Regions from separate parts of the Homo sapiens genome. Here region 2 is linked to region 1. Evidence: fine-mapped expression QTL. A gene starts in region 1. The other region holds a variant in brackets. All regions are shown on one strand. Distances are between the middles of the regions. Region 1 holds the start of ZNF880 (zinc finger protein 880). Region 2 holds the start of ZNF528-AS1 (ZNF528 antisense RNA 1).

What was found. PIP is the estimated chance that this variant, and not a neighbour inherited with it, causes the effect.
Region 2: its variant is fine-mapped to the expression of ZNF880 in whole blood (TOPMed, PIP above 0.99).

What each region holds. Positions count from the first base shown.
Region 1 is chr19:52,365,159-52,373,494 of GRCh38, reverse strand. ZNF880 (zinc finger protein 880) reads right to left here and starts at 3,572. Exons shown (of 4, transcript NM_001145434.2): 1 at 3,518-3,572; 2 at 258-384. The coding sequence starts at 3,529. It overlaps ZNF610 (zinc finger protein 610), which reads right to left. Exons shown (of 6, transcript NM_001161425.2): 6 at 5,717-7,797. The coding sequence ends at 6,728. RefSeq lists enhancers at 3,131-3,270, 3,471-3,580, 3,591-3,890.
Region 2 is chr19:52,389,553-52,397,888 of GRCh38, reverse strand. It overlaps ZNF528-AS1 (ZNF528 antisense RNA 1), which reads left to right and starts at 132. Exons shown (of 7, transcript NR_125345.1): 1 at 132-427; 2 at 622-694; 3 at 1,137-1,279; 4 at 1,390-1,524; 5 at 2,139-2,291; 6 at 3,042-3,098. It overlaps ZNF528 (zinc finger protein 528), which reads right to left and starts at 40. Exons shown (of 7, transcript NM_032423.3): 1 at 1-40. It also overlaps a transcript of ZNF880 not described here. RefSeq lists an enhancer at 1-728. The variant T/G (reference allele first, on the strand shown) is at 5,257.

The sequences.
Region 1 (8,336 bases):
GTACCACTCAATGATGAATCTCAAAGGGGCCAGAATTCTGAAGAAAGCAATTATTTTAAGTCCAGAAAGTATTATGGAGCTTATTGTTTCTGAAAAATACAGCATTATAAAGCATTATGGAGGTTTTCATTTCTGAGTCAACAGGGTTTCAATCTCAGTCAAGCAATACAGTGACTCCTAAGATGCTAAGAGGCACACGACAAAATGCAAAAATACACCAGGGCAGATCTTGACTTCTGAAGGGACATTATCCTCACCCAGAAAGACCAGGTTCCTGTAGTTCTCCACCATCACTTCCCTGTATAAAGTCCTCTGAGCAGGGTCCAGACATTTCCACTCCTCCTGAGGGAATTCTATGGCCACGTCCCTGAATGCCAAGTGTCCCTAAAATGAAAAACACATTTCACCAACAGGATATCACACAAAATGAGGAGACAGTTGTAAGGACTGACTTGATTGAAGTGGATGTTCTGACAAATCCACGTTAAGGTATTTTTTTAGCTAGTTATATGTTTCTAATTGTGTTTTAATATACTTCTCCATTAGAAGTTATGACATTCTTTTTTTTTTTTTTTTTTTTTTTTTGAGACGGAGTCTCGCTCTGTCGCCCAAGCTGGAGTGCAGTGGCGCGATCCTGGCTCACTGCAACCTCCGCCTCCCAGGTTCACGCCATTCTCCTGCCTCAGCCTCCCGAGTAGCTGGGACTACAGGCGCCCGCCACCACGCCCAGCTAATTTTTTTTTTTTTTTGTATTGTTAGTAGAGATGCGGTTTCACCATGTTACACAGGATGGTCTCGATCTCCTGACTTCGTGATCCGCCCACCTCGGCCTCCCAAAGTGCTGGGATTACAGGCATGAGCCACTGCATGCCCAACCTGATATTCTTTAAATTAGTATAGATTTCTAGGCCGGGCGCGGTGGCTCACACCTGTAATCCCAGCACTTTGGGAGGCCAAGGCGGGTGGATCATGAGGTCACGAGATCGAGACCATCCTGGCTAACATGGTGAAGCCCTGTCTCTACTAAAAATACAAAAAAATTAGCCAGGCGTAGTGGCGGGCGCCTGTAGTCCCAGTTACTCGTGAGGCTGAGGCAGGAGAATGGCGTGAACCTGGGAGGCGGAGCTTGCAGTGAGCCGAGATGGTGCCACTGCACTCCAGCCTGGGCAACTGAGCGAGACTCTGTCTCCAAAAAAAAAAAAAATTAGTAGAGATTTCTAATTTTGTGGACAACATAAGAAATACAAAAAATTAACCCACAGTTATTTCTATAGAAGCGTCAGATACAATATATATAATTTTTTTTTAGATGGAGTCTCACTTTATTGCCCAGGCTGGAGTGCAGTGGCACAATCTTGGCTCACTGCAACATCCGCCTCCCAGGTTCAAGTGATTCTTCTGCCTCAGCCTCCCGAGTAGCTGGGACTACAGGCACCCACCACTGTGCCCAGCTAATTTTTCTATTTTTAGTAGAGACAGGTTTTCACTATGTTGGTCAGGCTGGTCTTGAACTCCTGACCTCAGCAATCCTCCCGCCTCGGCCTCCCAAAGTGCTGGGATTACAGGCGTAAGCTACCTCACCCAGCCAGGATGAAGCTTTTGAACACCTCCCATGTGACAGGCACTTTCTAAATGTTGTACATGTACTAACGGCTATAACAACAAAAGCCCATAAAAGAACAATCTGTTCCCATCCTATTGAAGAGACAACTCTTTCTCAGACATTCTAAGAAACTTGCCCCAGGTGTGAAGGCTAAAAATGGCAGAGTAAGCGCCAGATCCCAGGAGTCTGGGCATTAGAATCAAACTTTAAGAATTAGGCCAGGCGTGGTGGCTCATGCCTGCAATCCCAGCACTTTGGGAGGCCAAGGCAGGTGGATCATTTGAGGTCAGGAGTTGAAGACCAGCCTAGCAAACATGGTGAAACCCCATCTCTACCGAAAATAAAAAAATTAGCCAGGCGTACTGGTGGGCACCTGTAATCCCAGCTACTTGGGAGGCCGAGGCAGGACAATCACTTGAACCCGGGAGGCAGAGTTTGCAGTGACCTGAGATGGTGCCACTGCACTCCAGCCTGGGTGACAAAGCGAGACTCCAGCCTGGGTGACAAAGAGAGACTCCATCTCAGAAAAAGAAAAAAAAAAACATCAAACAATAACAGATCAGCATCAAAAGTAAATTGACAGACAATGACCTAACTGAGTATAGTTAAAATAAGTTCCGGGATTAAAATCAAGAAACTGTCGCACATGTATCCCCATAACAGGTTACTATCCTTACAGCCATAGACTCACTATCATAACAGTGTAGAACAATTTTAAGGTCATGAAAATATATAAGATGTAATTTCAACTGTTAAAAGATATAAGACGTATATAAACTGATGATGCGCCTTTGATAAAAACAATAGACTTGCTCATCTGTGCACTCATCCACACACATCACATGTACACACTTATTCATATACATATATACATTCACACACATATACTCTAGTAAACATATATGTGACAACTGAAAGAGTTGTCTGTCAATAACCTCTTTTTTAGATATTTGTCTTTGTTCGTTTTTTAATGTGTCCAGGTTGCAGTGCAGTGGCTTATTCATGGCACACTACAGCCTTGAATTCCTGGCCTCAAATGACACCCTCTCCGAGTAACTCGAATGACAAGCGTGCACCACTGTGCCTGGCTGTCGTTGTTTTTGCAAATGTGCATTTCAGCATGTTTGCAACAATAAAAATGTATAAACTGTGCTCAATTCAGTTTATAAACATTATTTCAAACTATTTCAAAAAGTCAGACCATGTAAAAACATAGAAACGAGAATTCCAATCTCTATTAAATACCCGTACTGAAACATATGTTTCAAAAATTGAGATGGGGGTCTCACTATGTTGTCCAGAGTGGTCTCAAACTCCTGTGCTCAAGGAATTCTCCAGCCTGGGCCTCCGGAGAAGATGGAATTCCAGCCCCGGCCCATAAATATTAGGTTGGTGCAAAAGTGATCGCGGTTTGCCATTACTTTTGCACTAACCTAATTTTGTCCACTAAATATTTATTTAGGTGTTAGCAAAAGCCCAATGGAGGCTGAAACATCACAATCAGCAGTAAACATCAGATCGATTTCCTCTCATTTAAGGCACAGAAAAGGGGGCAGGCCTGTGAAAAGAGGGCGAGGCTTGGGGGACCGGAAAGACGTGGATCCATCTCGCGGGTGAGAACTTTACGCAGCGCGGGCCGTGTCTAGGGGTCACTGAAGGATTTGAAGCAGGCAAACTCCGCGACAGGAGCTGTCTACATGGCCCTGTGGTGAAAGACCGGGGACAGGACCAGCCTCCGAGCGATTTTAACACTCAGGGAAGCGACCGCCAGACTCTCATTAGAACGTCTGAGTTTAGTCGGGGTGGAGGGAGCGATGCGGGGATTTCAAGGTCTGTGTGACCCCTGAGATGCCGGGTACAGAAGCGCGAGGGGACTCAGCATCCCAGATTTAATCTAAACAAAGGGAAACTCACACGCCGCAGCATGACCGTCACTCCACGTAATCTGCTTCCGGGTCTCCAGGAAACTGCGCGCGCAGCTGAGAGGCGAGGCGAGGCCAGGCCCGGGTGGGATTGGGCGGAGCCTGCGCTTCCCTCCGCCTCGCTCCCAGCTCGTCTCGTTTTGGAGGCTAGACCTGCCGTGGAGACTGGAAGAACTCAGCTATCTGGAAATAGATTGTGTCCCGGCAGAGGGAAAGTTTGTTGATGATTAGATCCAGGAAAATTCCTGCTATTAAAATTAATTTTAAATCGGCTGTAGGGGCGCTCGCATGTGGTCCTAGCTACCCGGATGCTGAGGTGGGAGGATCGCTTGAGCCCATGAGGTGGAGGCTGCAGTGAGCCGAGGTCGTGCGCTGCACTCCCGCCTGGGCATGAGAGAGAAACCTTGCGCCTAATAAATACATAATCATAAATAACAAATTGGAAATAAATAATTAAAATAAATAAATATAAATGAATAATAAACACTAGTTTCCGGAATTTTAAAGTCCTTGAATTGTTTATGAAGGGGATGCAAATTAAAATATGAAATGCAAAACCCTGCCAGGGCGGAATGTGCAATTTCCTTTTTTTTTTTTTTTTTTTTTTGGAGACAGAGTTTCGTTCTTTTGCCCAGGCTGGAGTGAAGTGGCGCGATCTCGGCTCACTGCAACCTCCGCCGCCTGGGTTCAAGCGATTCTCCTGCCTCAGTCTCCCGAGTAGCTGGGATTACAGGCGCCCACCACCACACCGGGCTACTTTTTTGTACTTTTAATAGAGACAGGGTTTCTCCATGTTGGCCAGGCTGGTCTTGAACTCCTGACCTCGTGATCCGCCTGCCTTGGCCTCCCAAAATGTTGGGATTACAGGCGTGAGCCACCGCACCCGGCCAAGTTTTTTTTTTTTTTTCATATTTATATTAATCCTAGTGTATACCTGCCATTGTCTTATGGACATACTCAGGTCACAACTTTTTTTTTTTTTTTTTTTTTTTTTTTGAGATGGTCTCCCTCTGTCTTTCAGGCTGAAGTGCAGACAGCTCACTGACTGCAGCCTCGACCTCCTGGCATCAAGTGATCCTCCCATCTCAGCCTCCCAAGTAGCTGGGACTACAGGCACACGCCACAATGCCCAGTCCCATGTCACAAAATTTTGTCTCCAAACAGCACTCATTTATTTGTCCCCTAAAGTTTTCACCAGAGCAAAACAGGGAAGAAATGTATTAAACATAGAATTTGGAGGCAATGTAGGAAAAAAATGTAAAAATATATATACATACAAAAAATATAAAAATATACATGCTAGGTGTGAATTGTAACTAAGTTTCCAGTATGGGTAGTGGGTATCCCCGCCCCAGCCCTACCCTTTAGCAATCATGACACCCCAAGCCAGTCACCTATCCCAGTTCTCTGAAGCCACTTTTGGACCAGCTGGAAAAGTATACCCTGCTTTCCCCCACAGAGCCTCATTATATAATAAACACTCTCAAACCATATCAGTGTATGGGATCATCATTCTCAAGATCCAAGCCAAACCTTAGGGGGACTTCAAACAAGTTCCAGAAGAGTGGTCAAAAATTCAAATTACCAAAAGAGTTGTGAGGGTGACTATATGAAGTTTCTAGTTAATGTACCAAAACAAAATTCCCTTTCTGTGTGTGACTTAAAAAGAAGATGGGTGAACATTAATATTTTCAAATGATGTCACTGAACACTAGAAGTACAAAAAGAAATTGTGTTACAGTATTATTATTATTTTTTTTTTTTTGAGACGGAGCCTTGCTCTGTCACCAGGCTGGAGTGCAGTGGGGTGATCTCAGCTCACTGCAACCTCTGCCTCTTGGGTTCAAGCGATTCTCCTGCCTCAGCCTCCCAAGTAGCTGGGATTACAGGTGCACACCACCAGGCCCAGCTAATTTTTTTTTTTTGTATTTTTAGTAGAGACAAGGTTTCACCATGTTGACCAGGATGGCCTCAATCTCCTGACCTCGTGATCCACCCAATGCAGCCTCCCAAAGTGCTGAGATTACAGGCGTGAGCCACCAGGCCCGGCCATGTTACAGTATTTTTGCCCTCAACCCATACTTTATTTCCTAATATTTGTCATATTACTATATATTTTTGCTGCATGAAAATGAAGGTGCACACCATAGTTCTTATTTGGCACACAAGAAAGAGGCATGTAGAAACACAATACAGGGCATACTCTTTAACACTCACACACATTTGAGGGTGTACAAGGCTGAAATTGTACTATTAAAGTGATTTTGACTTTACCCACATAAACATCCTACACCAGAGTACAGAGAAACTAACTCAAGTACTAAGTGTAATTACTCAACATCATACTTACTTAAGTATATTGCACCCAGAAGCGTATGTTGTTTTATGTCTCACACACATACACACACACACACTTTTCTGGCTGCTTCAACCTTAAAATCATAATGGGTTATTATTCTCTACTATAAAGTATCCTCCTGAGGTAAGATTAAACAACGCTGGTAGAAAGGATGTAATTCATTCACACTAAGAAAAATTTAAACTAGGCCGGGCGCTGTGGCTCACACCTATAATCCCAGCACTTTGGGAGGCCAAGGCCAGTGGATCACTTGAGGTCAGGAGTTTGAAACCGGCCTGGCCAACGGAGGGAAACCCCGTCTCGACTAAAAATACAAAAATTAGCCGGGCAGTAGTGGCACATGCCTGTAATCCCAGCTACTCAGGAGGCTGAGGCAGGAGAATTGCTTGAATCCGGGAGACGGAGGTTGCAGTGAGCCAAGATCATGCCACTGCACTCCAGCCTGGGTAATACAGCGAGACTTCGTCTCAAAAAAAAAAGAAAAAACTAAAAAAAAACTTTAAACTTTATTACTTAAAACATGAGAAGTATGTACATTCTAAATCAAAGAGTTACAAATTACGGTGCCAGCAGTTAAATGTGAATCCTACTCAAGAATATGCTATACTGGTAGTTTTCATTAAATGCTCTATTCTGATATAACTGTTCTCTCTTTATAGATTATTTATATATGTTATTAACTTTACATTTGTAGGGTTTCCTTTCAGTGTGGATCAAGAGATGAGTGATGAGGCTTCAATGCAAACTAAATTCTTTGCCACATTTATGATATTTGTAAGGTTTTTCTCCTGAGTCCTCCAATGTTGTGCTAGGTGTGAATTCTAACTAAAGATTTTGCCACATTCATTCCATCTGTAAGGTACGCAGTGAATTCTCTCCAGCATGAATTTTCCGATGTCGTGAAAGGTGTGGATTTTGATTGAAGACCTTGCCACATGCATTACACTTGTAAGGTCTCTCTCCAGTATGAATTCTCTGATGGTTGGTTAGGTATAATTTGCGCCCAAAGACTTTGTCACATTCATTACATTTGTAAGGTTTCTCTCCAGTATGGATTAGAAGATGGGCCATAAGGCCCGGACGCTTGTGAAATGCTCTTCCACATTCGTTACATTTGTAGGGCTTCTCTGTACTATGAATTATTTGATGCCGTGCAAGGTATGAAAGCAGACTAAAGACCTTGCCACATTCATTACATTTGTAAGGTTTTTCCGCCGTGTGACTTCTCTGATGATTGGTTAGAGAAAATTTGTGCCTGAAGTTCTTGCCACACTCATTACATTTGTAAGGTTTCTCTCCAGTATGGATTACAAGATGGGTAGTAAGTCCCGAACACTCTCTAAAAGCTTTGCCACATTCGTTACATTTGTGAGGCTTCTCTCCAGTATGAATTCTTTGATGTCGTGCAAGGTTTGAATTGCGATTAAACACCTTGTCACATTCACTACATTTGTAAGGCTTCTGTCCAGTATGAATTCTCCAATGTTCTACAAGGTGTGAATTGCGACTGAAGACCTTGCCACATTCAGTACATTTGTAAGGTTTCTCTGCAGTATGGATTACTTGATGGTTAGTAAGGCTTGCACGGACTCTAAAAACTTCACCATCTTCACTACATTCATATTCATAAGATTTTCCTCTAATGTATGCTTTCTCTTCTTGTGGGAGTAATGGGAAATCAATAAGATCATTTCTATATTTATTAAAAATGTGTGTTGTGAAACTAGAAGAAATTTTTTGAAGTGGTGAAACTGAGGAACGATGGTTTGTAAACTTTTCAACTTGATTACTTCTGTAAATTTTCCTTCCGGCTTGAAACAGCTGCAATTCAGACAGATGTGCCTCAAGGGTTAATCCAAGTTGATTTTTAATAGGCTTGTTTTCTGCATTGCTTCCCAATACACAGCTCCTCCCTAGAAAAGAAGAAAGAGTAGAACATGAACCCATGATTCTGGCATGTTTACCGTCTGGTGGAGGGACCAGAATCAGCCTCACCCAACTCAGACACTGGAAGAAGTATCGGCATACTTTGCATGTCACATTGTGAGAGCTGAAAACACAAGGGGGTGACGTGATGCATTGGAGCAGTGGGGAATCTGCAGGACTCGGGAGGATTATGAGTGACTTTGAGAAAGATTAAGGGCAGAAAAATAGAACAGAAACTGAAAGCTTCTCAGAAAAAGCAGGGATGAGCCTCTTAGAGAAAATAAGACATTTAAGAGCAGTTGTATAGACATTAGTAATAGTATAATATACGCATAAAGCTAGGAGAGACACAATCCCAGGAGTGAGGTGTTCCCACACCCTTTACAACAGGCTAATTGGGAAAGGTCTCCCTGTCACACCTGTCACAATTCTTTTTTTTTTTTTTTTGAGACGGAGTCTCTCTCTGTTGCCCCAGGCTGGAGTGCAGTGGCACCACCTCAGCTCACTGCAACCTCCGCAAGCAATT
Region 2 (8,336 bases), 24 kb before region 1:
AGTTTCTCCCTGCAATCGGCTTCCGGGTCTACCGGAAACTGCGCTCTAGGCGTTCGCCCCCCGCGGTCCGCTTCCGGGTTTGCACGAAATTGCGCGCGCATCCTAGAGGCCGGACTGGCTGGGACCAGGGCGGGCCGGGACAAAGCCTGGGCCGGGCCTGCGCTTCCGTTCGCTTGACTGGCTGCGCTTGTTTTCAGGGTTTTGGTCTGAAAACGGATCTTACCTGCGCAGAGCAAAATCGGTTGTAGATTATATCCACGAAAATTCCTTCTATTAAAATGAATTTCAAGTCCCACCTACCCTGGAAGCAGAAAGAGAGAGAAGAGAGAGAGTAAAGAGAAAGAGAAAAGAAAGAGAAGTTGAAAAAGAGAAAGAAAACCAAGAAAGAAAGAGAAAAAAACCGAAAATAAATGGACAAGAAAGAAAAGTAAGGAGGGAAGGGAAGGGAGGAAGGGAAGGGAAGCTTTAGGAATTGAATTAACACACTTTGGAATTGTCTGTGAAGGGGATGATGCAAGCTAAAATGTGAAATGCAAAACCCTGCCAGGGTAGAATGTTCTATTTCATGCCAGTGCCCATAGAAGATAAATACTTTTCATTTATCTTCCCCATTCACTCTAGACGGTGAAGGTCAACCCTGTGCTCAATTCCAGAGACTTTCCTAGGGACATCGTGTTGGGCATGGAGGACTAAGGCCAGTGTGAAGATAAGTCACCGATTCTTTAAAAAAAAAAAGCCAGTAACTTATAAAAATAGCCATAAACGACGTAGTTTTTTGTTGTTGTTGTTGTTTTGAGACAGCGTCTCCCTCTGTCCCCCAGGCGGGAGTACAGTGGCAGGCACTCAGCTCACTGTAACCTCCGCCTCCTGGGTTCAAGTGATTCTCTTGCCCCAGCCTCCAGAGTAGCCACCACGCCCGGTCCAACTTAGTTTTTTAATACTTTTTAAAATTTTAAGACAGGGTCTCTGCCACCGAGGCTGAAATGCAGTGGCGCAATCATAGCTCACTGCAACCTTGACTTCCTGGGGTCCTGGGCAGGTGACCCCCTGTCTCAGCCTGCCGAGTAGCTGTGAGTAAAGGCCTGTGCCTCTCCACTGTGCTAATTTTCTACTGTTTGTTGCTTTGTTTTTAATAGAGATGTAGTCTGGTTTTGTTGCCCAGGCTGGTCTCCAGCTTCTAGCCTCAAGCAGTCTTCCCATCTGCTCCTACCAAAGTGCTCGGATTATAGGCATGAATCACCTTGCATGGGAGATAAGGACCCCCACATCAAGCCCTCAGGTTATTTTTGAAACACAAATACATAAGGCCCACAAGCAGGCCCATTGGCTGCAGACAGTGGGGTCACCTGAAGAACTTTTCTTTGATCTGAGTACCAACTTCTCACCTAGGTCACTGGGATCCTGGACTACGGCACTGCTCCAGGCAGGCCTGGTTATCCTGCTTGAGGCAGCAATCCTCTTGAGCCTAGTGAAATGCAACTGGCTGTACCTCAATGATGTTGCCCTGAGATTCTGCCAGTCGAGGTATTACTTCAATCTCCTGAGACCAGCCTCTACCTCCAGATCCAGGGAGGTCAGTGCACATGTAAATGGACTAGCTTTATTAAAGGGGATATCTGGGCCAGGCGTGGTGGCTCACGCCTGTAATCCCAATACTTTGGGAGGCCGAGGAGGGCAGATCACCTGAGGTCGGGAATTAGAGACCAGCCTGGTTAACATGGTGAAACGAAGTCTCTACTAAAAATACAAAAAAAAAAAAAAAAAAAATTAGCCAGGCATGGTGGCACACGCCTGTAGTCCCAGCTACTCGAGAGGCTGAGACACAAGAATTGCTTGAATCTGGGAGGTGGAGGTGCAGTAAGCCAAGATTGCGCCACTGCACTCCAGCCTGGGAGACAGAGCGAGACTCCGTCTCAAAAAATATAAAAATAAAAGGGATATCTGGATTGGCGGAGAGACTGCAGGACAGCATTCAAGTGGGGTTGAATTGGCCCAGTTGCATCTGACTTCTCACTTGTAGTTCCCAAGAATGAATATAGAATGTGCTGGAAAAGCAACATCCTGAGAGGAAGGGACCGGTGAGAAAAGGACAGGATGTGTTCCAGATCCCCAGAACAGGATCCCCTTTGTTGCTTTAGGCCAACGTGCCATGCATCCCTGGAGCATGAAACCCAGGATGGGCCGCCTTCCAGCCTCCCACAGCTGTGATGCAAGTTGAACACATACAGAGAGACTGCATCTGCACTGGGTGGTTTTCCTGAGCCTTGGGGAGCAGAATGCATGAATCCCAGGTATCTGCCGATCTGTATGTAACAAATTCACTTCATGTAACTTACTGTGTGTCCGTGAGATTATCTCTCACTCAACTCAGACACATTGGCAACCAGTGTGCAGTGAACCTGCTTCACAAGCAAGGATGTGGAGAAACTATTTTCGTACATTTTGTGGGAATCTGAAATACTGCGGTCAGTATGGAAAGCAGTATCATGGGAAACTTCCTCAACTCAAGATCACCTACCAATCCTTACAGAATCAGAATCATCATACAAACTGGTGAAAGCATAGTTTCCCCTAGAGGTTGGGATGAGGGCAAGAATGTCCCCTCTTATCACTACTATTCCACACAATATGAAAGGTTCCAGCCAGTGAAATAAAGGAAAAAGAAATAAAAGTGACAGGCTGGGTGTGGTGTCTGAGGCCTGTAATCACAGTGCTTTGGGAGGCTGAGGAAGGAGGGTGGCCTGAGGACAGGACAAAAAAAATAGTGTACCAACAGAAAATATGTTGGTTGTGCAGGCTAATACCTTTCCCAAAGGAAGGTAGCTACATCCCTATGACCTGTGTTACTGGATATATCAAAAGGGAGTTTGCAAATGTGGTCTAGATAAGGATCTTTAGATAGACATCCTGAATTATATGGTCAAAGTGATAGAATCACAAGGTTCAATATCAGAAGGGTGCAGGTGGATGCGAAGGGACAGAGACAGTGGTGATGTGTTGAAAATAGAGGGATAAAGAGATTTTTTTTCTCACCTTTAAAGATGGAGGAAGTGGACCATGAGTCAAAGGATGTAAGTGGCCTCTGGAACCTACAAAGGGTAAGGAAACAAATTCTCCCCTGGAGATTAATGAAGAATCACAGAACTATGGACCCATATTAGATATGTGACTTACAGAATTATAAAAGAATAAATTTTTCTTGTTTTAAGCCAATCACTGTGTATAGCAATAGGAAACTGATGAAATGATTTTATGTAGAAAATTCCAAAAAAATCTACAAAAATCTCTAGAACAAGAAAAATGTAAAGGTAGCAAAGTATAAGGTCAACCTACAAAAATATCGTATATTTCATCAGCCAGGCATGGTGGCTCGTGCCTGTAATCCCAGCACTTTGGGAGGCCAAGGCAGGCAGATCACTCAAGCTCAGGAGTTTGAGACCAGGCTGGGTAACATGGTGAAACCCCATCTCTACAAAACACAAAAATTTAACAGGCCATGGTGGCACATGCCTGCAGTGCCAGCTACTGGGGAAGCTGAGGTGGGAGGATGACTTAAGCCTGCAGGACACAGGTTGCAGTAGCTGAGATTGCTCCACTGCACTCCAGCCAGGATGACAGAGTAAGGCCCTGTCTCAAAATAATAATAATAATAATCTTGTATATTTCTATACACTAGCAATTTGCACATGAAACCTGATATTAAAAATAAAATACTATGTATGATTGCTCCATTAAGAAAAAGGTCAAAGAGGCCGGGTGCAGTGGCTTACACCTGTAATCCCAGCACTTTGGGAGGCCAAGGCAGGTGGACTACGAGGTCAGGAGATCGAGACTATCCTGGCTAACACGGTGAAACCCCATCTCTACTAAGAAAATACAAAAAAATTAGCCAGGTGTGGTGGCGGGTGCCTGTAGTCCCAGCTACTGGGGAGGCCGAGGCAGGAGAATGGCGTGAACTCAGGAGGCGGAGCTTGCAGTGAGCTGAGATCGCGCCACTGCACTCCAGCCTGGGCGACAGAGCAAGACTCCGTCTCAAAAAAAAAAAAAAAAAAAGGGGGGGGGCAAAGAAATACATGTGAAACAAAACATTCATAGAACTGTTATGTTACAACTACCAAATGCTGATAAAAGAAATCAAAGACAGCAAATAGAGACATATACCATATACATTTATTGGAAGACTCCATGTAAAGCAATATGAATTATACAAATCTGACACATAGGGTTAATACCTTTCCTAATTAAGGCATTCTGCAGATACTAACAAGGTTAGCAGTTATGTAGAAAGACAAAAAACCCAAACACCTAAAATAGCTAAAACATCTGACCAACAACAACAAAAGATTGGTATCACTTCATGTGATTTCAAGTCTTCTAATACAATAAAAGTATTTTTTCCCTTTCTCATATTTACAGTAAACCTAGTTTGTATTTGTCATTGTCTCGAAGCAAGAATCTGTCCCAGAAAAAAAAAAAAGAAAGAAAGAAAATTTCCATTCAAAACTAACAGGATTTAGGCCAGGCATGGTGGCTCACACCTGTAATCCCAGCCCTTTGGGAGGCTGAGGCGGGCAGATCAAATGAGGACAGCAGTTCGAGACCAGCCTGGCCAACTTGGTGAAACCCTCTCTCTACTAAAAATACAGAAATTAGCCAAGGATGGTGGCAGGCACCAGTAATCCCAGCTACTCAGGAGGCTGAGGCAGGAGACTAGCTTAAACCTGGGAGGCAGAGGTTGCAGTGAGCCGAGATTGCGCCACTGTACTCCAGCCTGGGCAACAGAGTGAGACTCTGTCTCAGAAAAGAAAAAAAAAAAAAAAACTAACAGGATTTATACTATTGGTTTTCCACAGAATTCTCCCAGTTGCAGAGTTTCCCAAACACTATTTATTAGTGTGGCTTTGCAGGGTGCAGTGGCTCACACCTGTAATCCCACCAGTTTGGGAGGCAGAGGAAGGAGGATGACTTGAGCCCAGGAGTTCCAGGCTGCAGTGAGCTATGATTGCCACTGCACTCCAACCTGGCTAACAGAGCAAGACCCTGTCTCTCAAAAAATATATATATATATACAGCTTCCACTCTGCCCATCTGAGCTCTTACCTGTGTTCACACCTTTGATCCATTCCCTCCCATCTGGATTTTTTTGCTATTTTCCCTTCACTCTCCAGAGTCCAGGGCTCTCTCCTTTGCTCCCACATAGAGATAATACTCAGGTCAGGAAGACAGATTCCTGTTTATAAAAAAAGAGAACCAAGG[T/G]GTACTGTGGCACCTTTAAAACTCAAGCCCTGGGCTGGGTGCAGTGGCCCAGGCCTGTAATCCCAGCACTTTGGGATGCCGAGGCAGGCAGATCACTTGAGGTCAGGAGTTCGAGACCAGCCTGGCCAACGTGGCAATATGCTGTCTCTACTAAAAATATAAAAATTAGCCAGGTTTGGTGGTGGACGCCTGTAATCCCAGCTCCCTGGGAGTCTGAGGCAGGAGAATCACTTGAACCCGGGAGGTGGCGGTTGCAATGAGCTGAGATAGCACCACTGCACTCTAGCCTGGGTGACAGAGCGAGGCTCCGTCAAAGTGAAAGAAAAGAAAGAGAGAGAGAAAGGGAGGAAGGAAAGAGAGAAAGAGAAAGAAAGTCAGTCCATGGTTTCCAAAACATACTTCTGTTTCCATTAATTTATTAGGAATGCTCTTCCATCTGGCTGTTGATCTGTGTCCTGTGTAACATCCTTTATAACAAATGGTACACCTCAGTAAATTGTTTCTCCAAGTTGTGTAAATCACTCTAGCAATAGCAAATTCTGGGGGCAGTTTTGTGCAACTGAGCCCTCAGCCTCCTGTGAGATCTAATGCTAACTCCCTATAAATGGTGTCAAATTGAGTTCAATTAGAGAACACCCAGTTTTTATCTGATGAAAAATAGCTTGTTGGTGGGAAGTAATCCCCACACATTTTGATGACCGGAGATGAGGCATTCTGTGTTGAGCATTCACTATTGTGTTGATTGTGAGTAGAAAAAACACTTTGGTTTTTCCTCCTATCTTATACACTCACACACCCTACCCCATCCCAGAAGTGAAGATAGTGACCCATACCTGAATGAGTCAAGTCACTGCCTGCCGTCTGGCAGAATAAGGACAGCAAATGGAAGCTAACCTCTGATACCAAGAATTAGGAAATGCACATGCCTTATAGACAGTTTTCCAATTCTCATCTTCATCTGTATATTTTAAACAAATGTGATGTTTATTATAGAGAAATTAATCATAATATCCAATCAATTCATCATTCATCTGGATTGAGTGTCCCCCTCTTTCCTCATTACTGTGTGTTTCTCTACCTACCTCTCATTCTCACCTTCTTTTCCTAGCTTTTTTTTTCTCTTTATTTTTCCCCTAGGATTCTCCTCATTTCAAGCCCTTCTTCCTTCTCCTGCTCTTCCCTCTATTCCTTCTCTTCCACTTGTTCTGCTCCTTTCTCACTTCTTTCACCTCTTATTCTTCTTTCTGCCCAATATTTGTCTCCAATTTTCATATAGTTCTGCCTCTTTCTTCCCCCCGTCTCTGCTGCCCCCTAGCTTCCCCTGTTAAATCCCCTCTTCCCTGCTATATCCACCTGTCCCCTCTCTGGCATCCCCAGATCCCAGTTCTCCCCAGGCTGTGGTTCTCCCTGTGCTCTCCTTATCACTGGCTGCCCCTCTTGCTCTCCCAGCACCATGCTGCTCTGTCTGCCCTGGCTCCAAATCCCTCCTTCTCTCCCCAACTCTCCATCTGAGGAGCCTCCCCTTTTCTGCCCCTCTCCCTATCTTGCTGAACTTTATCTCTCTAGAAACCCAGTTTTTCTCTAAATTTCTCTAGTTGCTTTTCTCCCCCTGCTCCTTTCTCAGCATCTTCATGCACTGTCTCTGCAAATCCCTCATCCACCATCTACTTTGCCATCTGTTTTGTTTTGTTTTTTGTTTTTTGAGATGGAGTTTTGCTCGTCGCCCAGGCTGGAGTGCAATGGTGCGATCTTGGCTCACCGCAACCTCCGCCTCCCGGGTAAAAGCGATTCTCCTGCCTCAGTCTCCAGAGTAGCTGGGATTACAGGCATTCGCCACCATGCCTGGCTAATTTTGTATTTTTTAGAGACAGGGTTTCTCCATGTTGGTCAGGCTGGTCTCAAAACTCCTGACCTCAGGTGATCTGCCCGCCTCAGCCTCCCAAAGTGCTGGAATTACAGGCGTGAGCCATCGCACCCAGCTGCCGTCTGTTTATGGGTCTCCTTCATTCTTCTTTCCCATTTCACCATTTTTCTATTTCCTCTCCTCCACACATTCATAGGGAGGGGACTGCAGTCAGATCCCCACCTCAAGAGCCCATTTCCTGTGGGATGGAATTTGGGACAAGAGAAACCTTAACGTCCTGAGATAGAAGTCACGTCCCCACACTCGATATCAGGAGAAGGGGAGGCCTGGGGAGCAGAAGGGCCCCCGATCAAGGAGGAAAAAGGCAGGAGAAAGTCAGGAGAGGGGCAGGGTCTGCAGGATCCCAGGACCAGGAAGAGTTCACGGCCTCCCTGGGACTGGGGCTGCGTCGCTGCGCTCCAGGAGCTGACGAGGGAGCGGAGCAGATGGGAAGCTCCCAGGGCGGGAATCAACCTTGCGGTGAGGACTTTAAAAAAGGTGCGGGCCAGTGCAGGGGACACTGAAGGATTTGAGGCAGGAAAACTCCGCGATAAGAGCTGTCTATATGGCCCTGTGGCAGAAGCACGGGGGACACGACCCCATGGAACTGTGTCCATTAAACCTCTTTGTCTTCATAAATTACCCAGTCTCGGGTATTTCTTTATTAGCAGCGTGAGAACAGACTAATACAGTAAATTGGTAATGGTATAGAGTGGGGTGCTGCTATAAGGATACCTCAAAATGTGGAAGCAAATTTTGAACTGGGTAACAGGCAAAGGCTGGAACAGTTTGGAGGGCTCAAAAGAAGACAGGAAGACGTGGGAAAGTTTGGAGCTTCCTAGAAAATGGTTGTTGAATGGTTCTGACCAAAAAGTCCAGGCTGAAGGTGGTCTCAGATGGAGATGAGGAACTTTATTGGAACTGGAGCAGAGGTGAGCTGCAGGGGCGGAGCCCTCATGGAGAACCTCTGCTAGAGCAGTGCAGAAGTAAAATGTGGGGTTGGAGCCCCCACACAGACTACTCACTACTCGCCTAGTGCAGCCGTGAGAAAAGGGCCACCCTCCTATAGACCCCAGAATGGTAGATTCACCGACAGCTTGCACCATGTGCCTGGAAAAGTAGCAGACACAACACCAGCCTGTGAAAGCAGCCAGGAGAGGAGCTGTACCCTGCAAAG